Linked DNA regions of Homo sapiens: region 1 is linked to region 2. Evidence: fine-mapped expression QTL. A gene starts in region 2. The other region holds a variant in brackets. All regions are shown on one strand. Distances are between the middles of the regions.

The links.
Region 1: its variant is fine-mapped to the expression of METTL16 in whole blood (INTERVAL, PIP 0.99).

The regions. Positions count from the first base shown.
Region 1 is chr17:2,415,935-2,427,684 of GRCh38, reverse strand. It overlaps METTL16 (methyltransferase 16, RNA N6-adenosine), which reads left to right. Exons shown (of 10, transcript NM_024086.4): 9 at 6,781-6,954; 10 at 7,089-11,636. The coding sequence ends at 7,715. Among named protein-coding and RNA genes, the nearest start is that of MNT, 21 kb to the right of the region's middle. The variant T/C (reference allele first, on the strand shown) is at 5,934.
Region 2 is chr17:2,503,893-2,520,512 of GRCh38, reverse strand. METTL16 (methyltransferase 16, RNA N6-adenosine) reads left to right here and starts at 8,625. Exons shown (of 10, transcript NM_024086.4): 1 at 8,625-8,754. RefSeq lists enhancers at 8,425-8,474, 8,545-8,754, 12,747-13,657, 13,658-14,569.

The DNA of each region.
Region 1 (11,750 bases), 90 kb after region 2:
GATCACTTGAGCTCAGGTGTTTGAGGCCAGCCTGGGCAACACAGAAGACCCTATCTCTTAAAAAAATAAAAGAATCCCATGCCAAAAACTCCAGTCCTCAGCCAACATATTACTCATTAACTTTATCTCACAATATGCCCCAGGAGTCTCAAAAGTAACATTACCATCAACAAAGTGATTTCTGAAAATAGCTACTTTTTTACTTTTACAATTCTTTTTTGTCCTTGGAGACTCTCATGATGGATTTCAAAGTCATTTGGAACGTTTCCACTCTGAATTTTCTGCATGGAGTCAGGACAGAGGTTCGTTTGTTTCATCATCTTCAGATTTTTAGGGAGTGCCTTTTTTGTTGTTAGTTTTGTTTTGTAATAAAATATATTTCTTATTTCTCTACCTGTGAAATGAAAAAAATCTCAAAAGAATGGTCAGAAGTCTGACTTCTTTCTTCTATCTCATTCACCCTAATCCTTTACTTCTTCATGGGTTACTATTTAAACAGTTTTATAATTTATCATTCCTTTATTTGTATTTATATTTTTGAGCCAGGGTCTTGCTCCGTTGCCCAGGCTGGAGTGCTGTGGCACGATGTCGGCTCACTGCAGGCCCTGCCTCCTGGGTTCAAGCTATTATTCTCCTGCCTCAGTCTTCCGAGCAGCTGGGATTACAGGTGTATGCCTCCATGCCCGGCTCTTTTTTTTTTTTTCGTATTTTTAGTAGAGATGGGGTTTCACCATGTTGGCCAGGCTGGTCTGGAACTACTGACCTCAAGTGATCTGCCTGCCTTGGCCTCCAAAAGTGCTGGGATTGCAGGCATGAGCCACCGTGCCTGACCCATTTTTTCAAATTCAAAGAAATACACGTATGTATTTATAATCATTCCTTCTTAAATAGGTAGCATTCTGCAATAGTTTTCTTCCCCTTGCTATTTTTACTTTTTTTTTTTTTTTTTTTTTTTTGAGACGGAGTCTTGCTCTGTCACCCAGGTTGGAGTCCAGTGGCGTGATCTCGGCTCACTGCAACCTCCGACTCCCTGGTTCGAGCAATTCTCCTGCCTCAGCCTGCCGAGTAGCTGGGATTATAGACACGTGCCACCATGCCCAACTAATTTTTATATTTTTAGTAGAGATGGGGTTTCACCATGTTGGCCAGGCTAGTCTTGATCTCCTGACCTTGTGATCTACCTGCCTCAGCCTCCCAAAGTGCTGGGATTACAGGCGTGAGCCATGGCACCCGGCTGCTATTTTTACTTTTTACTGTTTTTACGTACTCCTGGGGGTGATTTCAGGACATTTTAAACAACGACCTGTCAGATTAAGATGAAAGAAATGGGCTGGGTGTGGTGATGTGCACCTGTAGTTGCAGCTACTTGGGAGGCTGAAGTGAGAGAATCACCTGCGCACAGGAGTTCAAGGCCAGCCTGGGCAACATTGTAACTCCCTATCTCTTTTAAAAAACAGACGGCCACTGCACTGGGGTCTCCTCTCTGCCCTGTCCCCTTTCCACTTGAGGTTTTTCTAGAAGCTGCTTTGCCAAAACAAAGAGGTTGTGGCTTCGTGCGCACCAGATTTCTCTGTAGAATGGCTCTTCTCTTCCTGCAAATACTAGAGAGAATTTAATGATTTCATTCAGCCTGTGGCTTTTTTTTTTTTTTTTTGCCTTAGCCATAATTAACGGAGACATAACATGCTACACTGATCTGTGTCAAGCTACACCACATGTGAAAGTTTCTTGGCTGATGGCATCATTGAGATTTAGAAATTAAAGTGAAGATTCAAATTTGTACCAGTCTGGGCGACATGGCAGAACCCCATCTCTACAAAAAATACAAAAATTAGCTAGGCATGGTGGCACACACCTATAGTCCCTGCTACTCAGAAGACTGAGGTGGGAGGATCACTTGAGCCTAGGAGGTGGAGGCTGCACTGAGCCGTAATTGCGCCACTGCACTCCAGCCTGGGTGCCAGAGCATGACCCTGTCTCAAAAAAAAAAAGACAAGAAAAGAAATTTGTAGACCACCCTGCTACGTAGCATATTTTAAAATTTAAGAACTGGTTTTTTGTTTGTTTGTTTGTTTGTGCCTGATTGATGGCTTCTGTGATCTAATGTGTTTTTAACGCTTGCAGTTCCTCTCTTATTGATGATCATTCCTTGACTACTTGGAATTCAAAAGATATAAAACCTGTGGTCTCTGCAGACCTACGACTGCTCACCAGGCTTCTCTCACATTGTAATTCCAGCAGTGCATCTTCAAATCCAAAATCAGCTGTAAATTCACCTAGTTCTTTGCATTAAACTGGATTAATCATTGTAAATGATTGGTTTTGGGGTAGACTTTAAAATGTTGAATTATTTATGTACGCCTTGCCTGCTAAACTAGATTATGACAGTTTGAGTGTAGCACTCTTCATTTAAAATATTTGTGTTTTGCAATTATAAGGATATTAGCAAAATAAGATCATTTCAATTGGGGAAAAACTGACAGCTTCTATGTACTAGTGTTTGCAGCAAAATGTAAAAATTGCCTACGACCAGAGAGCTGTGGTGTTGAATTTAACTATTAATTTCTTAGAACTTGATCCTATATTTTACTGTGACCCTGCCCACGAGGACTTTTCATGATAAATAAGAGGGGACTGAACAACTGCTGTGAGCCATACTTCAGTTAATCTTTCATCATTTAAAAGCCTTGCCTGAGAACTCCTGGAGTATGAATTATCTGTCTTTTTTTTTTTTTTTGAGACGGAGTCTCGCTCTGTCACCGAGGCTGGAGTGCAGTGGCGCGATCTCTGCTCGCTGCAAGGTCCGCCTCCCGGGTTCACGCCATTCTCCCACCTCAGCCTCCCAAGTAGCTGGGACTACAGGCGTGTGCCGCCACGCCTGGCTAATTTTTTGTATTTTTAGTAGAGATGGGATTTCACCATATTGTCCAGGATGGTCTCAATCTCCCGACCTTGTGATCCACCCACCTCAGCCTCCCAAAATGCTGGGATTACAGGCGTGAGCCACTGCGCCTGGCCTGTCTGTCTCTTAATGTCTAGTTTCTATAGTAGAGCAAAGCCAAATTGAAGACCGTCCTGAGATGATGTGTGTGCATGTGTGTGCTAGAGCAGTTCATTAGAAATCTTCCGAATGCAGCTGGCGCAGTGGCTCAGGCCTGGAGTCCGAACACTTTGGGAGGCTGAGGCAGATGGAGAGCTTCAGCCTATGAGTTCCAGACCAGCCTGGGCAATCAATATAGCAAGACCCTTCTCTATTTAAAAAATAAAAATAAGGCCGGGCGCGGTGGCTCACGCCTGTAATCCCAGCACTTTGGGAGGCCGAGGCGGGCGGATCACGAGGTCAGGAGATCGAGACCATCCCGGCTAAAACGGTGAAACCCCGTCTCTACTAAAAATACAAAAAATTAGCCGGGCGTAGTGGCGGGCGCCTGTAGTCCCAGCTACTTGGGAGGCTGAGGCAGGAGAATGGCGTGAACCCGGGAGGCGGAGCTTGCAGTGAGCCGAGATCCCGCCACTGCACTCCAGCCTGGGCGACAGAGCGAGACTCCGTCTCAAAAAAAAAAATAAAATAATAAAATAAAATAAAATAAAATAAAAGGAAAATTTTTTAAAAAATCTTCAGGAATATCAAGTTTGTTGACTGACCATTGTATATGGGAAAGTTGGGTCAGGATGCAGGTGAAGGAGCCATATTTGAGAGAGGGAAGTTTTCATTTTAGTCCTGAGATAACTGGGTAATAAGTTGTCGATTTTGTGATTTCTGACTTCCTCAGAACTCTGAAAGTATCCCTGATAGAGTTCTTGTCAGGTTGGTAAAGATGTATTTTCTTATTTTAATCTCTAGAAATGATGAAGCCCGTCCTTACTTTTGGAGAAAGAGTGTCGCAGGTCAGCTTTAGCATAATGAGAAACAGCAATATCCTGACTTTACTGGTCAGAATTTGTGAGCAAAATGATCACTCCTTCTGTGAGAAGAGATGGGAAGTGCTGCCCTTTTAGCCATGCTTGTAGGTGACCTTTGCTGTACAGGGCGGGCTGGCAGGGAGGGCCAGGTTGCAGTGAGCTCTCCATGGTCATGGCCTTTGATGTTGGGACGGGGAATGGGGAGTCTGATTCTCCACCCCCATCATCCTCCCACACACCGGCTTAATACGCTTCTTCCCCAGCTTAATACGCTTATTGTAAGCTCCTTACTGCAAAGCGTTAGGCTCTCAGTAGACTAGAAATTATGTTTCTCATGCAGGATGATTGAGTAATAACAATATGACTGTCTTAATGTCAATATGAATTTGTCTCATCTTGTCTGAAACATAATTGAACAAGTTCAGGTTCAGACAGGTCTTAGAGTCCACTATTCATTTCTCAAGAGCAGGTTCTTCAAACACACACACACACACACACACACACACACACACACACACACCCTTTGTTTTTTATCCTTCCCTAACAGTTTCCTAGTATAGAATAAACTGGTTAGGTTGTTGTGTATGTATGCAGTGTGAGGCCGCTGGTTAGTTCTTATTAGAAGACGTCCCCCAGTAATCAGAACCTGTGGTGTCTGCATGTGTGCGTGTGCGCTGTCAGTGTGGCCAGGTACGACTGGAATGATCAGTAGCAGTCGTCAGATTCCTTTTAGCAGAAAAAGATCTTCAAACCTGACTTGGTGTTTTTTCTTTTTTATCCTTTTTGTTGTTGTTGTTTTTGAGACACAGTCTCCTTCTGTCTCCAGGCTGGAGTGCAGTGGCGCAATCTCATCTCACTGCAACCTGCACCTCCTGGGTTCAAGTGATTCTCCTGCCTCAGCCTCCCGAGTAGCTGGAATTACAGGCGCGGCCACCACACCCGGCTAATTTTTGTATTTTTACTAGAGATGGGGTTTCACCATGTTGGCCAGGCTGGTCTCAAACTCCTGAGCTCAATCCATCCGGCCGCCTCGGCCTCCGAAAGTGCTGGGATTACAGGCATAAGCCACCACACCCAGCCTAAAGTTTCTACTTTAAAGAAAGAAATTCTCAGGCTGGACACGGTGGCTCACACTTGTAATCCCAGCACTTTGAGAGGCCGAGGTGGGTGGATCACGAGGTCAAGAGATCGAGACCATCCTGGCCAACATGGTGAAACCCCGTCTCTACTAAAAATACAAAAATTGGCTGGGCTTGGTGACGTAGTCCCAGGTACTTGGGAGGCTGAGGCAGGAGAATCGCTTGAAACCGGAGGTGGAGGTTGCAGTGAGCCGAGATGGCGCCATTGCACTCCAGTGACAGAGTGAGATTCCATCTCAAAAATAAATAAATGAATAAATAAATTTTCAATACAGTGGTGGCATTGGTTTTGTTTTTTTTTTTTTCTAAAACGGAGTTTCACTCTTGTTGCCCAGGCCCAGACTGGAGTGCAGTGGCACAATCTCGGCTCACTGCAACCTTTGGCTCACTGCAACCTTTGGCTCCTGGGTTCAAGCAATTCTTCTGCCTCAGCCTCCCGAGTAGCTGGGATTATAGGTGCGTGCCCCCATGCCCAGCTAATTTTTGTATTTTTGGTAGAGACGGGGTTTCACCATGTGGGCCAGGATGGTCTTGAACTCCTGACCTCAAGTGATCTGCCTGCTTCGGCCTCCCAGAGTGCTAGGATTACAAGCATGAGCCACCGCGCCCGGCAGGTGCCATTGGTTTTTAAAGTGGAACTTGAGTCCCTCTAGTGGGTAGGGTATAATTCACCTTCCCAGCTTGAGATAGAATGGAAGATGCCAGTCGTGATTTTCTTGGAACCAGCTTTGAAATCCAGTCTTCTCATCAGCGCCGGTGTCACCCTCCCCAGCTAAAAGGCAGTGCTTAGCTCGCCGCCGGCTTGGTCCCGACATCAGCCACGATTCAGGAGTCCTCCTCCTCTGCCCACGTGATCTTAGTGGCCCTGATCCTTCCTCGCATGTCATCTCA[T/C]GGCTGTGGTTCACCGGCTGCTTTATCTCAAGCCTCAGCCAATATAAACTCAAACTACAAGTTGATGATGTTTCTGCCCTGCAGTTCTTTCCAGCCAAGAACACAGTGCCCCCAGGGTCCTCGAGTTGTCATGAAATAAATAATTGTGCAGGTCTGCTTTGGGTACCACAGGTACACGAAGGACGTTTAGCAGTTGGAGGAGTTACATCTGATAGCCAGAACAAAGGCAGTGCGGTGCGGCTGGAAAGAACGTGGGTTCGGCGTTCAGTCCTAACTGCAGTTACTGTGTGACCTTGAGCTGTGTGACATAGCCTTTCTGTATCTTCGTTTTCCTGGAGATGCCTAAACTATCTTGTGGGGTTCTTATTTTTTTAATTAAAAATTTTTTTTTTCTTAAGAGACAGGGTCTCACCCCGTTTCCTGGGCTAGATTGCGGTGGCGCAATCAGAGCTCCCTGCAGCCTGGAAGTCTTGGGCTCAAATGATCCTCCCTCCTCTGCTTTCAGAGTAGCCGGGACCACAGGCATACACCATTGTGGCTGACTAGTTTTAAACGTTTTTTTAGAGATGGAGGTCTTACTATGTTGCTGGGGCTGATCTCAAACTCCTGGGCTCAAGTGATGCTCCTGCCATGGCCCCCCAAAGTGCTGGGATTATAGGCGTGAATGACTGCACCTTGCAGGGTTGTTTTAAGTGCTGGACATAACACACACAAAACCCTTTGTGTTTTCAGTGCTCTATGATTGGTAGCAGAAGTTGTGGAAATTTTCTCTGAGTTCATTACAATGCATGAGGTTTAATTATTCGGATAACTTTCTTCTCTTTTCTATGCTTCCTTTTTCTTGCAGTCACCACCAAGTAAGCGAAGAAAATTAGAGAAACCGAGAAAACCCATAACATTCGTGGTGCTGGCGTCCGTGATGAAGGAATTATCCCTCAAAGCATCACCTCTGCGCTCGGAGACGGCGGAAGGCATAGTCGTTGTCACGACATGGATTGAAAAAATTCTCACTGATTTGAAGGTACCTGCTTAACCATATTGACGAAGTACTCATAATGATCCTTCTCTTTTTTCTTTTTTCTTTTTTTTTTTATTGAGAGTTTGGAGAGAGGGGAAACGTGATTTCCCACAAAATTCTGTTTTTCCTCCAAACAGGTCCAGCATAAACGAGTTCCCTGTGGAAAAGAGGAAGTCAGCCTTTTCCTAACGGCCATAGAAAACTCCTGGATTCATTTAAGGAGAAAGAAAAGAGAGCGTGTGAGACAGCTGAGAGAAGTTCCCCGAGCTCCTGAGGACGTCATTCAGGCCTTGGAAGAGAAAAAGCCCACCCCCAAAGAGTCTGGCAATAGCCAAGAACTGGCCAGGGGCCCCCAGGAGAGGACCCCCTGTGGGCCTGCTCTGCGGGAAGGCGAGGCTGCCGCTGTGGAGGGCCCGTGCCCGAGCCAGGAGTCCCTGTCCCAGGAGGAAAACCCGGAACCCACGGAGGATGAAAGGAGTGAGGAAAAGGGAGGGGTGGAGGTTTTGGAAAGTTGTCAAGGCTCTAGCAACGGAGCCCAGGACCAAGAGGCTTCTGAGCAGTTCGGCAGCCCAGTGGCTGAAAGGGGGAAACGTCTCCCAGGAGTGGCCGGACAGTACCTGTTTAAGTGTTTGATAAACGTTAAGAAGGAGGTGGACGATGCCTTAGTGGAGATGCACTGGGTTGAGGGCCAGAACAGGGATCTGATGAACCAGCTTTGCACCTACATACGTAACCAAATTTTCAGGCTTGTTGCAGTTAACTAGAAACCTCCTGCACAGTTGGAAACGTGTTGATAGTAACTTGCTTTGGAGTGGCCTGTGGGGTGGCAAGAGGAATCCTACCAGCGGCCCATTAGTAGCACGATGTGGAATTATCTTCGAAAACAAAAACCTATGAATCTGTCCCCCACCTCCCCCCGCCTCCTTCCCGCTTTTTGAGTTACAGGGAGTCGTAGTGTGGTCATTTACAAGGAGGAATTGTGGTCATCAGTAACAACAGAAAGCCCTCAGTAAACTCCCGAGGGATTGCAAGCTGGCTCAAGCTGGCCCCTCAGCTCTGGACTGCCTCTGCAAGGTCAGAAGGGTTGTTTGTGGAGTCTGGGCTGGGCAGCACTGCCTAGAATATCATGCTGTCTCTGTCACCCAAGGGTGTTTCTTGAGGAGGGGTGGCTCTCTCTGCCTCCAGCTGGAGGCCCTGGTACCCTGTTCTAGGTCACTCTTCAAGATGGGGCCTACCTTGCATCAATCCCACAAAGGGAGCTGTATGGTGGGTGGTGGGGAATCTGGGAGAGAAACCTTAGTAATGCTGGGAAGGAGCAGCAGAGTCTGGGGACCACCCGGTAAATGGCACATTCCTGACACCTGGCTGTTTTGATGTTGCTTATTTCAGAAGCAGAATTAGGTAAGCAAAACTCCCCGGTGTGACTGAGGCACACAGAAGGCACCCATACCCCCACCTCCAGCCTGTTGACAGTACCATTTTGTAGCAGTTTTACTACTGTGTGATTTTTGTTTGGACATCTGAAGTAGAGCTTGTTTTGTTTTTAAATAAGAATATTCACAAATTAAAAACCAGCGGTCCTATTTGAATCCTGGGGTTAGCTGAGTGAGCGGCTGATGATAGAAATGAGAAATAGAACAAAATAGTATGTGCCGTAGGTAGCTTAAGAAAGTCTCAGATATTTTGTTGCTGATCAAATACTGTTTTTTTGTGGCTTCACTTGTAATCCCCCCTGTACTTACCTACTCACATTGGAGAGTTCTGAGGCCGGAGTAACTGTGTCCTTGAAACACGTTTCTAATTGGAATGCCAGGGTTCAGTAGCCGTCCCCCCGGAAAGGGGTGACCTTTTGCTGTGCTTGATGTTGCATCAGCAGCCTAGGGTTCTGTTTAGACTAAAATCTTGGCCAGAGCTCCTTGCCATCTGCTAAGAAGACTGGGGCTGAGTAGTTAAGCCAGCCTTCTGAGAGGTGGCTGTTGGTCAGGACGGGAAGCTGGTGACCTTGGCATGTCTTGGCAGCAGCTAGATCAGGCCCTCGGCAGAGACACAGGAAGCGGAACTGCTGTGCCTTAACTTGGCTGTGGAGCTGGAGCTGGAGAAGGCAGCATACTGACCAGTGGCTTTTTGATTGATTGTTTGTTATGAGGTGGAGTTTTACTCTTGTTGTCTAGGCTGGAGTGCCGTGGTGCGATCTTAGCTCACTGCAACCCCCGCCTCCCGGGTTCAAGCGATTCTCCTGCCTCAGCCTCCCAAGTAGCTGGGATTACAGGCACGCGCCACCACGCCTGGCTAATTTTGTGTTTTTGGTAGAGATGGGATTTCACCATGTTGGCCAGGCTAATCTCGAACTCATGATCTCGGGTGATCCGCCCACCTTGGCCTCCCAAAGTGCTGGGATTACAGCCGTGAGCCACTACTCCCAGCCTCTGACCAGTGTTCTTAACCTGGTCCGTGGACCTCCAGAGAGTCCATGTACCTCCTAGAGTTACTTCTAAAAGCTCTGTGAGCATGTGTGTGTGTGTGTGTGTGTGTGTGTATTTTTTTTCCTGGAGAGAGGGTTCCCAGAACCCTCAGACACAGACAAAGGGGTCAATAACCCACTAAGGATTAAGAATCATTATTCTAGTCCAAGCATTCATGTGTCAGGCTGCAAAAAACAATACCCAGGGTCACACAGAGCCAAGACTCAATTCAGGACCGTGGATTCCCCTGGTCTAGAAATTTTCTGCTGTGCCAGCCCACACCACCCCACTGTCCTTACCTCGAGTGAATATTACATTTGAGTCATTTGCTGGGCCCAAACCTAGTTTCCTTGGTATAATTTTAGGATAATTGTTTAAGTGGCAACTATTCATTCAGTAAGTAGTAAGTACTTATTGTTTGCTTGTTTCATTATGAAAGAGTGGCACATGCTCATTAAAGATTTGGAAAAATGAAAGTCAAAACAACAAAATCACCCCGAGTCCCAACCTTCTGTAACATAACCACTCTTGGCATTGGCGTGTTCCTTTCTAGTCTCTCTGTAGACGGGGTGTGTGAGTGTGTGGGTTTAACTTTGGTTGTCCTCATGCTGCGTATTCAGTTTTGTATTCTGGTCCTTTGTTCATTTAACATCTTACAAGTATTTGTCCATGTTGTAACAGTAGTGTATTAGCTTACACTCCTTGCCTGTTCAAAATGTCTTTCAGGCACAGCACTGGCCTTTAAGCCTGTGTCGTAGGGATTTCCAGAGAATGCTCTGTGTATTGAAGCACAGAAGGTGTTTCTGTGTCTCAGTGTGTTTCTGTCCCTAGGTTTAAGGCTTCATGTCATGGAGGAGATTTTATAGATGTCAAGCTAATGACCTTAGAGTTTTAAAAAATCCGTGACCGTGGCCAGGCGCAGTGGCTCACGCCTGTAATCCCAGCACTGTGAGGCTGAGATGGGCGCATCGCATGAGGTCGGGAGTTTGAGACCAGCCTGGCCAACATGGCGAAACCCCGTCTCTACTCAAAATACAAAAATTAGCCGGGCATGATAGCACGTGCCTGTAATCCCAGCTACTCGGGAGGCTGAGGCAGGAGACTCGCTTGAACCTGGGAGGTGGAGGTTGCAGTGAGCCGAGAATGCCACTGCACTACAGCCTGGGCGACAAAGTGGGACTGTCTCAAAAAAAAAAAAAAAAAAAAAAAAAAAGGAACCCATGAGCAGGCCAGCTTTCAGTCTGGAGCCGAGTGCCTTCTGTGCATTTGGATGTTTCCATTTCCTTCCCTGAGAAGATTTTCTTAGGCTACCTAGTGAGAGAACATTGAAAATATTTTTAAAGGACATCTAAGCATTGTTTTGGTCATGCATATGCTTTATAATTGTGTGTTGTTTCATAGCATATACCTCTGGTACAGGTGGGCAAGTTTTTCTTTGAAGAAATGGGTTATTGACTCATATGTCATAACCTTGAGTGTTACTCTCCCGGTGTCCAGAGGTCACATTCATGTTGCGGGGTTGGTATGAAATTAAATCTTGGTGATGTGACCCTACATTCTCTTCTGGTCCCTAGAATCGGCTTCTGGTCTCCTGATAACTGAAGTGGAGACAGAAGTTGAGCCTGTTGCCCAGGCAAACTAAAGCTGCTTTTGTTCTTCGGAATCTGCTTTGCCTCCGTCAGCCTGCTTCCTTCCCCACACATGCTGGCCGCACTGTCCCCACTCCAGACCTCTGCTGTGTGTCCTGGGCAGGGCCGCGTTTTGGCAGTACCCTTTCAACTCATCCTAAGCTTCGTGTAGATTACTTTAGTATATATTTTTTATAAAACATAAAGCCTTTCCTCTCGATGGAAATCAAAGCTTACCATGTGAGCACTCGAACTTCTAAGTTGTGACAGGAATAACAAAACTGCAAGGAGTGGAAAAGATGGAAAAGCCTGTGGGAAATCCGAGGCCTTTTGAAAGAAGGGAGCTGATGACTTCACGACCAGCTCCTGGAGCCCCTCCTTTCTGCTGAAGCCGCGGCATTTCCCTCCGTGGCCACACGAGGGCACCCTTGGCCCTTTTATCAAAGCGCCTTCACTTCCCCGTGGGAATGGAGACAAGTCTGTCCACGGTGTTTTCTTGAAATACCCAGTTGCTACCCAGATTTGTATTTTTATGTAAACAAATACATTTTCACAGAAATAAAATTTGAAAAATAAAAGTAGAAAGAGAAAAAAACACTAGCCATGGTCTCTTTACCTGGTATAATCCCTTTCGACTTTTTAATGTTTTTTTAATGGTCCCAGCTGACTGTTTTTTCTGTTCTTTCCAGCTGTCCTTCTACTCTAGAAT
Region 2 (16,620 bases):
AGACAACCTGTGGGGATTTTTTTTTTTGGCGGAGTTTTGCTTTTGTTGCCCAGGCTAGAGTGCAGTGGCGCGATGTCGGGGCTCACCGCAACCTCCGCCTCCCGGGTTCAAGCGAGTCTCCTGCCTCAGCCTCCCCAGTAGCTGGGATTACAGGCATGTGCCACCACACCAGGCTAATTTTGTATTTTTAGTAGAGATGGGGTTTTCTCCATTTTGGTCAGGCTGGTCTCGAACTCCTGGCCTCAGGTGACCCACCCGCCTAAGCTTCCCAAAGTGCTGGGATTACAGGCGTGAGCCACTGCGCCTGGCTAGCATTTGGATTTTTTAAAAAGGTCTTCCAAGATTCTGACGTGAACTCCTAGTTGAGACCTGTTGCTGTAATACAGAACTGTTGTTGATTGTGGGCCAATAAAAGAAACGCAAATAACTATTCAGAGGGCAAATTTGAGTGAGTACCCTAAGAAAGTGACGAAACAAATGCTATGGGGCTTCAACGGAGCTAGAGGTTACATCTGGATGGAAGAATGAAGAAGGCTTTATGGGTTAAGTGGCAATTTGTAATGAGACATGAAAGTATATGTAGGCTGTGGGACAGTAGAAATTGTGGGAAGGAGGCTGGACATGGTGGCTCACACCTGTAATTCCAGCACTTTGGGGGTCCAAGGTGGGCAGATCACTTCAGGTCAGGAATTTGAGCCTGTTCAACATGGTGAAACCCCATCTCTTTAAAAAAAAAAAAAAGCCGGGCAGGGAGGCGGGCACCTGTAATCCCAGCTAGCTACTCAGGAGGCTGAAGCAGGAGAATCACTTGAGCCTGGGAGGCAGAGGTTGCAGTGAGTTGAGATTGCACTGCTACATTCCAGCCTGGGCCACAGAGGAGACTCTGTCTCATTAAAAAAAAAAAAAAAAAGGAAACTGGGAAGAAGAGGAGGAGGATATATATATATATATATTTTTTTTTTTTTTTTTTTTTTTTTTGAGACAGAGTCTCACTCTGTTTCCCAGGCTGGAGTACAGTGGCACAGTGGCATGATCTCGGCTCACTGCAACCTCTGCCTCCTGGGTTCAAGTGATTCTCCTGCCTCAGCCTCCCGAGTAGCTGGGATTACAGGCGTGCACCACCACGCCCAGCTAATTTTTTGTATTTTTAGTAGAGACGGGATTTCACCATATTAGCCAGGGTGGTCTCCATCTCCTGACCTCATGATCTGCCTGCCTCGGCCTCCCAAAGTGCTGGGATTACAGGCATGAGCCACCGTGCCCGGCCAGGAAACTGTGGGAAGAAGAGGAGGAGGATGTTTCAGAAAGAGAGACTAGTTTGGGTGAAGAGAGATGCAGAAAAGAACACAGAATATGTTCAGAGACCAGATCATAGTGAATTTGGCTGGAAGGTAGTTAAACGCCGAAGGAAAAGGTAGATTGGAACTGCTGTGAATGGTCTTGTATTCTAGGATGAAGTCTTATTAAATATGAGTAGGAGAGTCAATATTGAAGAAATGCCAATCCTCTCAAAATTCATCTATCTATATAAAATGTAATAACAATAAAAAAATCCCAAAAGGATTTTTGTAGAAAACTTAATAAAATGGTTCTGGAGTTTATTGCATGGACATGTGAGTCAGGCAAATTCTGAAAAACAAGATTAACATAGGGGCCTTATGTTATATTATACTGCATAGTAATAGAAAGCTACACTAATTAAAACAAATGTGTACATGTATAGAAATAAGCTGACAGATCAATGAAACAAGTCTAGAAATAAACTCAAGCATATGTGGGAAGTACATGAATTACCAACAGGACGATTCAAATCGATGTGTTAAAAATGGTATTCACGCGGGCCGGCCGCAGTGGCTCATGCCTGTAATCCCAGCACTTTGGGAGGCCAAGGCAGGCAGGCGGATCACCTGAGGTCAGGAGAGCACTCTGGCCAACATGGTAAAAACCCGTGTCTACTAAAAATACAAAAATCAGCCAGGTGTGGTGGCTACTCAGAGGACTGAGATAGGAGAATTGCTTGAACCCAGGAGGCGGAGGTTGCCGTGAGCTGAGATCATGCCACTGCTCTCCAGCCTGGGTGACAGAGTGAGACTCCATCTCAAAAAAAAAAAAAAGGTATTCATGCTGGGTGTGGTGGCTCACATCTGTAATCCCAGCATTTTGGGAGGCCCAGCTGGAAGGAAGGATCGCTCTAGGCCAAGAGTTCAAGACTAGCCTGGGCAACATAGCAAGACTCTGTCTCTAAAAAAAAAAAAAAAAAAAAAAATTTTTTTTTTTTAATTCGCTGGATGTGATGGTGTGCACCTGTAGTCGTAGCTACTTAAGAGGCTGACATGGAGGCCAGGTGCGGTGGCTCACGCCTGTAATCCCAGCACTTTGGGAGGCCCAGGCAGGCGGATCACAAGGTCAGGAGATCAAGACCATCCCAGCTAACACGGTGAAACCCCGTCTCTACTAAAAATACAAAAAATTAGGCAGGTGTGATGGTAGGCGAGATCCTGCCTTCAGTTTTGGGGGCTATATACCTAGAAGTGGAATTGCCAGATCACAGGGTAATCCTATTTTTAATTTTTTGAGGAATTGCTCATTTTAGAGTATAATCCCTATTCGTCTACATTTTGATTCTGTTTTGTCTGTCTGTGGTGCTTGTGGATGAGGTGTGTGTAGTGAACACCATCACTCTTCAGCAGTATTTTGAGCACATGGAGGGACTGCAGGCCTGCCCTCTTCCCCACCCCAAGTTAGGTGGGGACATCTGAGTTGATTTGGTTGTCAATGATGCGTCTCACTTCCGAGTGGAAGCTCTGAAAAGCCATCCTCTCTCTCTCCTTTTTGCAGGGGTCCTGGAAGCCCATGTTGACATGGTGGTGCCGCAGACTGTGGCTATGTGGATCATAGAATCGTCACATGGAGGATGGCTGTCCTGAGCAGCTGCTGAGGCCACAGGAGGCTTTGCTTCCCCTCCAAACTGTCTTTTCCTGCATAAGTGTCAGGCTGTGTGTGTGTGTGTGGTTTTTTTTTTTTTTTTTTGACAAATTTGATTTTCTCTTCTTTTTCTTATTTTAAATCATTTTTTTTTAAATCATACAAATGATGTATGAATCCATTATCATTGTAAGACATTCAAATGATATAGACAAAATTAAAGACTCTCATGTCCCACTTCTAACATTCCAACTCAGTTTTCCTGAGGTTTCCCTAAGGTAACGCTGTTCTCAGTCTGGGTTTTTCCTTTCAGATCTTTTTCTACGGCTACTTTTATGCTTTATATTTTCATATTGAAATGTGTTCTGGTTTTACTTTATATAAACAATATCAAACTGAACCTACTGTTTCACAATTTCCTTTTACCTTATTCCATATCTTGGAAATTTTCTGTGTCAGTAGATATAGATTTCCTTTTTTTTTTTTTTTTTTTGAGACAGGGTCCCGCTTTGTCACCCAGGTTGGAATGCAGTGGCATGAACATGGCTCACTGTGGCCTCGACCTCTTCGGCTCAAGCAATCCTCCTGCCTCAGCCCCTCAAGTAGCTGGGACTATAGGCACACACCACCACACCCGGCTAATTTTTGTATTTTTTGTAGAAATGGGGTTTTGTCATGTTGGCTTCCCACACCACCACACCCGGCTAATTTTTTTATTTTTTGTAGAAATGGGGTTTTGCCATGTTGGCTTCCCACACCACCACACCCGGCTAATTTTTGTATTTTTTGTAGAAATGGGGTTTTGCCATGTTGGCTTCCTAGGCAGGGCTCAAACTCCTGGGCTCAAGCGAACCTACCTGCCTCAGCCTTCCAAGGTGCTGGGATTATAGGAATGAGCTATCGTACCTGGTCAATTTTTTTTGGTTTTTATGATTATTTTGTTTCTTAATCCATATGGGATTATTTTATGTATGGTGTAATTTTAATTTTTTTCCAAGTGGAAAACATCATTATTGGCTATTCTTGCACATTTTGTTTTCCAGCTAAATGTTATAATCATCTTAAGCTTCCTATAAAACTTCTTGGCATTTTAGATGGTCTTCCTATTCACCCTGTATTTTTTCAGAGTATCCTCAAATTTTCTGGTGTGTCAATAACACTAATTCTGAATTTTCAGCTCGATTTGAAATTTACTGTTTAATTTTTAAAATGAGTATGTTCTGTTTTATGAGACTTGGAACAGGAAGCAGGGCAGTAGTAAGATGTACATTTATATCCAGTTCTTCCACCAGCTATCATTATTCATTTATTTATTTTATTTTTTGAGACGGAGTCTCCCTCTGTTGCCCAGGGGGGAGTGCAATGGCGTGATCTTGGCTAACTGCAACCTCTGCCTCCCGGATTCAAGAGCCCAGGTAGTCGAGTCTACAGTGAGCTGTGATCATGACGCTACACTCCAGCCTGGGTGACAGAATGAGATCCTGTCTCAAAAACCGTAAAGAAATGAAAAAGAAAATGTGGTATCCTTAGTGCAGAGGATCACTTCAGTGGCTCTCTCAGTTATGTAAATGTAAGCTGAGAAAAAATAATTGTTCTGTAACAGGATATCTTTTTTTTTTTTTTTTTTTTTTTGTCATGGACTCTTGCTGTTGCCCAGGCTGGAATGCAGTGGCGTGATCTCAGTTCACTGCAATCTCTGCCTCCTGGGTTCAAGTGATTCTCCTGCCTCAGCCTCCCAAGTAGCTGGGATTACAGCCATCTACCACCCCGCCTGACTAATTTTTTGTATTTTTAATAGAGACGGGGTTTCATCATGTTGGCCAGGCTAGTCTAGAACTCATGACCACAGGTGATCCACCCTCCTCAGCCTCCGAAAGTGCTGGGATTACAGGTGTAAGCCACTGCACCTGCCTGGATATAGCTTTTGTGACAACTATAATGGCTATTAGATCCCTGATATGTAAACTTGGTCCCTAAGAAGGAGGTGGATACATTTACATAAGGAAGCTAGAGTCTTCTAAGCTAGAAGAAATTGATACTCAATGATTACTTTCTGAAATACAAAGTTAGAGAGACCTGTGGCTGTTGACAGGCTGGCTGTGGCCAAAGGACAGTGACAGGGAAGGGCCACAAAGTCCTTGAAATAATTAATTTCAGTCAAGAGGGAGTCCAGTCTGATGCCCTCAAGGATTGATTCCAGTCCAGTAGGCAGCTGATGCTGAAAGCAGCTCTGATAACTTGCTAGGCAACATTTCATAATTAGCAGCATTATTCACTGGATGTGCAGAATCAGTTTCCTGCTACAAAGAGGTAGCAAAGGATGTAACTGGCTAATTGGACATCTGCACTGTCCTTGCTGTGGTATGGAAGTTTGAGAGACTTCTCTGACCAATTACATCCTTGGACATTTCAGGGTAAATTTGGAAAAAGGCAGATGTTGTTAATCTATTCTGTGGAGTCTCCAGATAATTTTCATTTTATATAAAAAAGTTTTCAAGGATATGTATTTATCATTGTACCACAATATTTGGGAATAGGTCATACCAGATACATTGGAAAGAACCTATGTCCATCCACAGGGGAATTAGTTTTTTTTTTGTTGTTGTTTGTTTGTTTGTTTGTTTGTTTGTTTTTGAGATGGAGTCTTACTCTGTTGCCCAGGCTGGAGTGCAATGGCGCGATCTCGGCTCACTGCAACCTCTGCCTCCCGGGTTTAAGCGATTTTCCTGCCTCAGCCTCCCGAGTAGCTGGGATTGCAGGTGCCCGCCACCACGCCCAGCTAATTTTTGTATTTTTAATGGAGACGGGGTTTGACTATGTTGGCCAGGCTGGTCTCAAACTCCTGACCTCAAGTGACCCACCTGCCTTCGCCTCTCAGAGTGCTGGGATTATAGGTCTGGCCAACCCAACCTGGGCACGAATTAGTTTTTTAAAAAGTGGTATATCCAGCTGGGTGCGGTGGCCCAGGCCTATAATCCCAGCCCTCTGGGAGGCCGAGGCGAGTGGATCACGAAGTCAGGAGTTCGAGACCAACCTGGCCAACATGGTGAAACCCTGTCTCTACTAAAAATACAAAAAAATTAGCCAGGCGTGGTGGTGGGCACCTGTAATCCCAGCTACTCGGGAGGCTGAGGCAGAAGAATCGCTTGAACCTAGGAGGTGGAGGTTGCAGTGAGCCGAGATCACGCCACTGCACTCCAGCCTGGGCGACAGAGAGACTCTGTCTCAAAAAAAAAAAAAAAAGTGTTATATGCATTCAATGGAATACTGTGCACCTATCACAAAGAACAATAAAGAGCTATATTGTTGGAAGTGGAAGAATCTCCAAGAGTTATATTTGAGTATATGTGCATGTGTGTGTGTGTATATATATGTAATTACATATATATACAAATATATATTATTATTTGTATAAAAATTATTTGGTTATATATCCTTATGAGATATAGAGGTTTAGTAGTAAGGTTACCCAAATTTGATGGTGCTTGGCTGTGAGTGGTGAGATTTTAGATAATTTTTGTCTTTCTGATATCTTTATGTATTATTTAAATTATTTAAAAATTTTCAGTTATTAAAATGTTTTATCTTTATGGAATACTTAAAAAAAACTGACCAGAGAAGTTATAAGGAACAATATTATTATTATTAGGAACTCACTATATACTAGACATTCTGCTGTTTTATATGCATTATCTGATTTAATTCTCACAACCCCATGAGATTATTATCCTATTTTGTAATATTGAGCAAACTAAGCCTTCAAGTGTTTAAGCAAATTGCCCATACTCACAGGGTTAGTAAATGGTGGGGGCAGGATTAAAGGCCAGGTTTCCCAGCTGCAGTGCTACTAGGGTCTCTCTGGCCCGACCTACAGGTAAACTGGGTTGCTCTTTGGAGCTAACAGAAAGTTACCAATATCTTAAATACAATCACTTCAACCCCACCAGTCCTATCTCCGAGGCCATCTTTTCTTTTACCTTTCCAGCAGCATGCACTAAATAAAATGCCATAACTAGTATCAAAGCCACTACCAACCAAAGATGGAAAACTTTCTGTGGTAATATGTTACATTGGTTGCTGAAATGAACCATGCCTTCCAGTATTGGAAGGGACCCTGGCATAGTCCCCTCCCCTTGAATTGGGGCTAGCCCTTCTACTTGCTTTAACCAAGAATATAGCCAAGGTGCTAGTTCTGCACCTACGCTTTAAGAAGGCCTGGCAGCTTCCACTTTTGCCCTTTTGGGAGCCCCGAGCCAACATGTAAGAAGTATTCTGGCGGGGCACGATGGCTCATGCCTGTAATCTCAGTACTTTGGGAGGCCGAGGCGGGTGGATCATCTGAGGTCAGGAGTTTGAGACCAGCCTGGCCAACAGGATGAAACCCCGTCTCTACTAAAAATACAAAAAATTAGCTGGGCATGGTGGCGGGCGCCTGTAATCTCAGCTACTCAGCTACTTGGGAGGCTGAGGCAAGAAAATCGCTTGAACCCAGGAGGCAGAGGTTGCATGCAGTGAGCCGAGATGGCGCCATTGCACTCCAGCCTGGGCAATAAGAAACTCCATCTCGGGGGAAAAAAAAAATGTCATCCTACTCTGCTAGACAAATTACATGGAAAGGCCACGTGGACAGGGAGAGAACTTGGACTACAGGGAGAGAGACCCAGTTCTTTCAGCGGAACCAGCCCCCACTTGTTGCTATGACCACTGGCAAGACCAGCAGAACGGGTGGGCTAATCCCAGCCCAGATTGCAGAACTGTGAGCAAGTAAAATGGTGGTTGTTTTAAGTCTTACGTTTTGGGGCGGTTTGTTACACAACAGATTATGAAAACACCTCCTCAGCTTTCCTTGGGTGACTACTGGTACTCACTTGTGTATAAGTCTCCATTCCTTAATCCTTACTATCTCCCAATTTTATGGTAATAGTTTGCCAGAAGCGTTCACATTAACGACGAGGACGTAGGCAGGCCCCCCCTTTTTTTTTTTTTTTTGAGACAGAGTCTTGCTCTTTCGCTCAGGCTGGAGTGCAGTGGTGCGATCTTGGCTCACTGCAACCTCCGCTTCCCGGATTCAAGCGATTCTCCTGCCTCAGCCTCCCGAGTAGCTGGGATTACAGGCGCCCGCCACCACGCCCGGCTAATTTTTGTATTTTTAGTAGAGACGGGGTTTCACCATGTTGTCCAGGCTGGTCTTGAACTCCTGACCTCAGGTGATCTGCCCGCCTCAGCCTCCCAAAGTGCTGGGATTACAAGCGTGAGCCGCCGCGTCCGGCCGGATCCTCAGTTCTTTCGCTGTAAACGAGAGTACTCTTCCCCAACCCACAGGCTTATATCTCTTACAATTCAGTGAGTGAGACATCGGCTGAGGACACACCTGTTGCACAAAAAGGGCTCACTGCACGCCATCACACCCAAGTCTCGTACCCTCATCTTCATAACCTGCCCAATCCCAGTGAGTGTGAGAGGTAAGTCTGCAGCAGGGCCCGGAAAACTTGTTTCTTTTTCTTTTAAATAAGTTTTCTCGCGAATTCGAACGCATGTCCTCCTCCTGCCATACCTCAAAGGACTCCGCTCGTCACCACGCCCCCGCGCCTTCTGTTAGGAGCAGCAAACCCCAGGTGTCGCGAGGGTTTCTTCTTTCTTCAAGATCAGCCACAGGTCGCGCGAGAGGGATGTGTCCAATCACGAGGCTAGATGGCTTCACAAGATGGCGGCGCGCTGGGAGCGTATCATCTGCGTTTCTAGGAGCTTCGCTATGCGGCTGCTTTAAGATTCTAGGGTTGTACAGGCCCACGCCAGACACGACGTCTGGCAGGAACCTCGGCCTCAGAGGTGGGTCACTTATATCTCTCACGCAGATTTACTATCATGGGTCACTTAACCCGTGGATCACACGGGTTCCTCATTCTTGAGTTTTGGGCTAGTGAGGTGCCGACTTCGGGGTCTAGGAGGGGAGACCTGATGTGGCTGTGTGTGCGCACGCGGGGGTGTTGAGAGTGGATGAGTGGGAGGAGTTGGCGAATAGAATAGAGACTAGGACTGAAGTAGGAAAGACTCCCCGGTGTTTAGGAGGTTTAGAGAGATCCAAAACTGAGGCGGGAAGACAAACTGAGCTGATAAAATGAGGGCATGGAAAGAACGGCAGTGGCAGGACTAGTGGGAAACGTCGGATTTATGAGAGAAGGCGAAGAGAGAAGATGTAGATTGGTGTGGAAGTGGGAGGGATCTGTGCAGAAAGAATTTGAAGTTCTGAAATTGGAATTTAGACTGTTTTACAGGCTGTGTATCAAGAGAGTGGTAGTTGAAGAGGGTTAATGGTCAAGAGGAACCAAGGAAACAGAAGCATGGAGATGAGAAAGAAAAAAAAAAAAAGGGAAAGCCTCATTCTCAGGGTTCTACTATTAACTGTGGCTTTCTGGACTGACTCAAGTAACCGGGAAGAAAAGTTCCAGTCCATGGGCTGAGCTTTTTTTGAAACTCAGTGAGGGTGCTTTGTGTCGGTGGTCCAGACAGGGAAGAGTTCTATCGTGGTTTCAATCAACAAATACTTGAGTGCCTACTCTCTTAGGCCCTATTTTAGGCGTTGGGATATGCGGTGAACAAGACAGACAAAATATTTACCCTCTTGAAACTTACTGACGGGAGATTTTTTAAAGTAAGTAAAATATATGGAATGCCAGATGGGTAAATTCTGTGTAGAAAATTGAAGCTAGAGCCTGGGTAGCAAAGCCAGACTCCCTTTCTACAAAAAATGAAGTAAATTAACCAGGTGCAGTGCTCTGTACCTGTAGTCCCAGCTGCTTGGGAGGCTCAGGCGGGAGGATTGCTTGATCTCAGGAGTTGGAGGCTGCAGGGAGCTATGATTCCATCATTGCACTCTGGGCAACAGAATGGAAGACCTTGTCTCAACAAGAAGAAAAAAAAAAGAATTGATGCCCAGTTAAACTCTGAAGAATAGGTTATATTTAGCTAAGAACTCATTGCCTATATTGGGAGGTTAGTTAGAAAAGAAGTGGTTGTATTTACTCATTCTGTATCTGTTCTGACCAGAAAAGTTGAATAATGTAGGAAATGAATCGAATCTGCCATGTCTGTAATTTAATTTGTTTCACATATATTCAGAGTATTATGTTGTGTGTGCACTGATGTCAGCTATGTAGTCTGTAGAATTTTCCTTAATGTGTGGCAGAGCCCTAACATGCCACTGTCTCTTGAAGTCACTGTTAGGATATGGTGACTAAAGTCAGCAACAATGTATATTTCAAAATAGCTAGGAGAGGGCTTGAAATGTTACCAATACATAGATATAAAAAATACTCAAAGTGGTGAATACCCCATATACTCTGACTTGATCAGCACACATTCTATGCGTGGAACAAATACCGCATAAATGTCACATGTCCCCCATAAATTGGGAAAATATTTTCCATCAGTTTAAAGAAATTACTCTTAGTTTACTTTTTTTTGTTGCTTGCCAGAATCACAAGAAAGAACATTTTCTTTTTCTTTTTTTTTTTTGAGACAGTTTCACTGTCACCAAGGCTGGAGTGCAGTAGCACGATCTTGGCTCACTGCAACCTCCACCTCCTGGGTTCAAGTGATTCTCCTGCCTCAGCCTCCCGAGTAGCTGGGATTACAGGCACCCACCACCACGCCCAGCTAATTTTTTTTTTTTTTTTGAGACGGAGTGTTGCTCTGTCACCAGGCTGGAGTGCAGTGGCGTGATCTTGGCTCACTGCAACTTCGGCCTCCTGAATTCAAGTGATTCTCCTGCCTCAGCCTCCCAAGTAGCTGGGACTTCAGGCACATGCCACCACACCCAGCTAATTTTTGTATTTTTAGTAGAGATAGGGTTTCACTATGTTGGCCAGGATGGTCTCCATGTTGGCCAGGCTGGTCTCACAAACTCCTGACCTCAGGTGATCCTCCAGTCTTGGCCTCCGAAAGTGTTGGGATTATAGTCGTGAGCGACTGTGCCCGGCCAACACTTTAATTTTGGATATTTTCTTTTTAATAAAGTCTATTATTTGTATTTGTTTATTTTGAGACAGGGTCTCACTGTGTGGCCCAGGCTGGACTGGAACTCCTGGGCTCAAGCTATCCTTGGCATCCCTAGTAGCTAGGAACACAGGCATGCACCACCTTGCCCAGTTGATGTTTTCTTGAGAACTGGGGGCCATCCTAGTTTTATGCTCCCCTCTTTCCTGATGGTCAGTAAAGGGTATGTCAATGCTAGGAAATTAAGACAGGTATATAGTCATTTTTAGTCATAGTGTGAGGGGCAAAATGTAGTAACAGTATGCTGAAAAACTTTCAGGTGACTACTAATCCCCTCAAATTCTGAATTGTTTACTCAAAAAATATTTATTGTATACAGGTTGCTGGGGGTATAGTAAAGACTAGGATGGATATGGTTGCAGGTCTATGTGTGACATATGCAAATTAATTACACACCCAGTAGTAAACTGAAGATCTCTGAGGGAGAAGCAGCACAGGGTGCTTTGAAAGCGTGTAGATGGGCATCTGATTGGATTGTGGGGTCAGAGAAAGGCTGCCTGAGTAAATGATGCCTAGGGTGTGATTTGAGTAGCTAGTGGACCTTCAGAGGTGAAAGGCGATGGTGGGAGGTTGAGGAGAGTCTTACAGGCAGTAAGAATAGGAGATGGTGAGACAGACTACCATGCAGCAGAGAAAATGGAAGAAGACCAGTATGTCTGGAAGGGGAAAGTGGCAACAAATGAAGTTGGAGGGACAGATAAGGCCTGGATTATGCCTGCCTTTTTAATGATTTTAGACTTTTTTAGCTTAATAGCTTTGGGATGCCACTGAAGGGATTTAATAAGGAAATGTTCACATTTGCATGGGGGGAGTGGCTTGTCTGCTGAGTGAAAAGTGGCTGGTAGAGGGCAAGAGTGTTTATGAAGAGATCAGTTTGAGACTCTTAGAGCAACCCAAGAAAGACATGATAATGACCTGGGCCAGAGAGGTGGTGTTGTGAAGGGTGAAAAGTGGGATAAGGTCAAGAAATAATTGGGAGATGGAGTATTCAGGACCTGGTGTGTTGTGAATGGGGGAGGCAGCATGGAGAAGGTGTTGAAGATTTTTGATGTGTTTATCACAAGAAAGATAGCAGTGCATTTGGTGAGATAGGGAAGATGAGAAGGACCAGTTTGGGGTGGGTAGAAGTGATTTAATTTTGCACATATTGTACATGTATTTTTGAGCCCTTCAAGTGAGAAATATGGTAGGCAGTTGGATATGTGATTTGGAAAAGTCTGGAATGAAGACAACAGTTCTTTTCTGAAATTGGTTTAATTTCCAGTGTAGGAAGCTGTCAAAAAACCATCTGAAATAGCATTGACAGATTTATGACTATGTAAAATTATGTCTCTAACAAAGATTGCAAAAGAAAAATATTTATTGCTAGGAGATGTTATAATAGAGGATTTGTCTTTTTTTTTTTTTTTATTGATCATTCTTGGGTGTTTCTCGCAGAGGGGGATTTGGCAGGGTCACAGGACAATAGTGGAGGGAAGGTCAGCAGATAAACAAGTGAACAAAGGTCTCTGGTTTTCCTAGGCAGAGAACCCTGCGGCCTTCCGCAGTGTTTGTGTCCCTGGGTACTTGAGATTAGGGAGTGGTGATGACTCTTAAGGAGCATGCTGCCTTCAAGCATCTGTTTAACAAAGCATATCTTGCACCACCCTTCATCCATTCAACCCTGAGTGGACACAGCACATATTTCAGAGAGCACAGGGTTGGGGGTAAGGTCACAGATCAACAGGATCCCAAGGCAGAAGAATTTTTCTTAGTACAGAACAAAATGAAAAGTCTCCCATGTCTACCTCTTTCTACACAGCCACGGCAACCATCCGATTTCTCAATCTTTTCCCCACCTTTCCCCCTTTTCTATTCCACAAAACCGCCATTGTCATCATGGCCCATTCTCAATGAGCTGTTGGGTACACCACCCAGACGGGGTGGTGGCCGGGCAGAGGGGCTCCTCACTTCCCAGTAGGGGCGGCCGGGCAGAGGCGCCCCTCACCTCCCGGATGGGGCGGCTGGCCGGGCGGGGGGCTGACCCCCCCACCTCCCTCCCGGACAGGGCGGCTGTCCGGGCAGAGGGGCTCCTCACTTCCCAGTAGGGGCGGCCGGGCAGAGGCACCCCTCACCTCCCGGATGGGGCGGCTGGCCGGGCTGGGGGCTGACCCCCCCACCTCCCTCCCGGACGGGGTGGCTGGCTGGGTGGGGGGCTGACCCCCCCACCTCCCTCCTGGATGGGGTGGCTGGCCGGGCAGAGGGGCTCCTCTCTTCCCAGTAGAGGCGGCCGGGCAGAGGCGCCCCTCACCTCCCGGTCGGGGCGGCTGGCCGGGCGGGGGGCTGACCCCCTCACCTCCTTCCCGGACGGGGCGGCTGGCCGGGCAGAGGGGCTCCTCACTTCGCAGTAGGGGCGGCCGGGCAGAGGTGCCCCTCACCTCCTGGACGGGGCGGCTGGCCAGGCGGGGGGCTGACCCCCACCTCCCTCCCGGACGGGGTGGCTGCCGGGTGGAGACGATCCTCACTTCCCAGACGGGGTGGCTGCCGGGCGGAGGGGCTCCTCACTTCTCCGACGGGGCGGTTGCCAGGCAGAGGGTCTCCTCACTTCTCAGACGGGGCGGCCGGGCAGAGATGCTCCTCACATCCCAGACGGGGCGGCAGGGCAGAGGCGCTCCCCACATCTCAGATGATGGGCGGCCGGGCAGAGACGCTCCTCACTTCCTAGATGGGATGGCGGCCGGGCAGAGACGCTCCTCACTTTCCAGACTGGGCAGCCAGGCAGAGAGGCTCCTCACATCCCAGATGATGGGCGGCCAGGCAGAGACGCTCCTCACTTCCCAGACGGGGTGGCGGCTGGGCAGAGGCTGCAATCTCGGCACTTTGCGGGGCCAAGGCAGGCAGCTGGGAGGTGGAGGTTGTAGCGAGCCGCGATTACGCCACTGCACTCCAGCCTGGGCACCATTGAGCACTGAGTGAACGCAACTCCGTCTGCCATCCCGGCACCTTGGGAGGCCGAGGCTGGCGGATCACTCGCGGTTAGGAGCTGGAGACCAGCCCGGCCAACACAGCGAAACCCCGTCTCCACCAAAAAAATACGAAAACCAGTCAGGCGTGGCGGCGTGCGCCTGCAATCGCAGGCACTCGGCAGGCTGAGGCAGGAGAATCAGGCAGGGAGGTTGCAGTGAGCCGAGATGGCAGCAGCACAGTTCAGCTTCGGCTCGGCATCAGAGGGAGACCGTGGCAAGAGGGGGAGAGGGAGAGGGAGAGGGAGACCGTGGGGAGAGGGAGAGGGAGGGGGAGGGGGAGGGAGAGGGAGAGGATTTGTCTTAACTGGGGAGATTAGGGAAGGAAAGATCTTCCTGAAGAAGAGGTGCTTGAACTGTGAGCCCAAGAATGACTAAGAATTTGCCGACTGAAGAGAGGGAGGAAAAAACGTTACAGATAAAAAGAATAACCTGCATAGGAGGCTGAGGCAGGAGAATCGCTTGAACCCGGGAGGCAGACGTTGCAGTGAGCCAAGATTGCGCCACTGCACTCCAGCCTGGTGACAGAGGGAGACTCTGTCTCAAAAAAAAAAGAATAGCCTGCATAAAGGTCCTGTGGTCAGGGTAGAAGGACACAAAGAGCAAGGGCATGTGACTTAAACTGATGGTGAAAAGATAGGCAAGGCCAGGTCATGTAGTGCCTTGCATGTAGGCTGAAGTGATGTTTTTTTATTTTATCCTAAGAGTAAGGTTTTGAGCAGGTGGACATAGGAGAAGGACATACTGAGATTTGTGTTTGGAAATGATCACTACGAGGTGGAAGGAGGGATGGTGAGAACAAGAGTGGATGCAGGGAGACCAATTAAGAGGCTACTGTAAACCAGGTGCGGTGGTGCACACCTGTAGTCTCAGCCATTTGGGAGCCCGAGGTGGGAGGATTGCTTAAGCTCAGGAGTTCAAGTCTGGCCTGGGCAATGTAGTCTCTAAGGAAATAAAAGTAAGTAAATAAAAAGGCTGTTCTGGCCGGGCGTGGTGGCTTACAACTATAATCCTAGCACTTTGGGAGGCTGAGGTGGCAGGATTGCTTGAGGCCAGGAGTTCAATACCAACCTGGCCAACATAACGAAACCATGTATCTAAAAAAAAAAAAAAAAAAAAAAAAAAAAAAAAAAAATGCCTCTGGGCTTGACATTGTTGGGGACAGGGAAAAAGAGTGGATTTAAGAGGTATTTAGCAGGTAAAACCTACAGAAGTGGTGATTTCTTGGATATGAGAAACTATCAACTGACTCCTAGATTTTTGGCTAACATAATATTGTTTAGAAGAATAATCATTATTTAAAAGGTAAAAAATAAAGATATTAAGAAAATAAAAGTCACTTGCCACCCAGAGAGAGATATATATATATATAATAGTAAAATATTTTTTAAATTACCAACTACCTGGAGATTTACTAAACCATTATAATAGTTTCTCTTTCAGTGTTTATGTCTTGATATAAGTACATTTGCTTTTATTTCTTGTTGTAATCTGGAAGAAGACAAAATTATGTTCGTTTTCATTTGGTTTTAGCTACCTAGGAATGACAAGATTGAAACTTTAAGTTGGAATCAAAGATATTTTTTCAAAGTTTGGTGATGTTATGGTACACTACCAAATATTCAGTCCTTGTAAGGATACTGTAAAAACTAACCCCCAAGCTGGGTGTGATGGTTCATGTCTGTAGTCGTAGCACTTTGGGAGGCTGAGGCAGGAGGATCACTTGAGCTCAGGAGTCGGAAACCAATCTGGGCAACAAAGGGAGACCCTGTCTCTACAAAAAATAAAATTAAAAATAAATTAGCCAGGCGTGGTGGCATGGTGGCACATACCTATAGTCCCAGCTACTCGGGAGGCTGAGGTGGAAGGACTGTTTGAGCATGGGAGATTGAGGCTGCAGTGAGGTATGATTGTGCTACTGCACTCCATCCTGGATGACAGAGTGAGACACTGTCTCAGAACAAACAAAACAAGACAAAACAAAACACAACTAACCTCTAACTAATATCCTTGGTTATAGATCATATATACAGACTGTGTTCTGTCACTTTGATGCTCTTAAAGGAATACTTTTCAGCTTTCTTCCCTTGATTTAAAAAAAAAGACTCACTCTTACGTTGTCTGCATTTTTAAAATCATGGAAAAATATACATAACATAAAATTTACCATTTTAGCCATTTTTAAGTGTACCATTCAGTGACATTAAATGTGTTCATTCTCTTGTGCAACCATCACCTCTATCTCCAGAACTTTGTCATCATTCCAAAGTGAAACTCTGTACCTATTAAACAGTAACTCCTCATTCTTCCCTCCCCAGCTCCTCATCACCTCTATTCCACTCTCCATCTGTGTAATAAATTTACCTCTACTGGGTGCCTCATATAAGTGAAAGCATACAATATTTGTCCTTTTGTGTGTGGTTTATTTCCCTTAGCATGGTGTTTTCAGGGTTCTTCCATGTTGTAGCATGTATCAGAATTTCATTTCTTCTTAGGGCTGCATAATATTTATTGTATGTATATACCGTATTTTCTTGATCCATATTTATTGTATGGATATACCATATTTTGTTGATCATATGTATTGTATGGGTATATCGTATTTTGTTGATCCATATTTATTGTATGGATATACCGT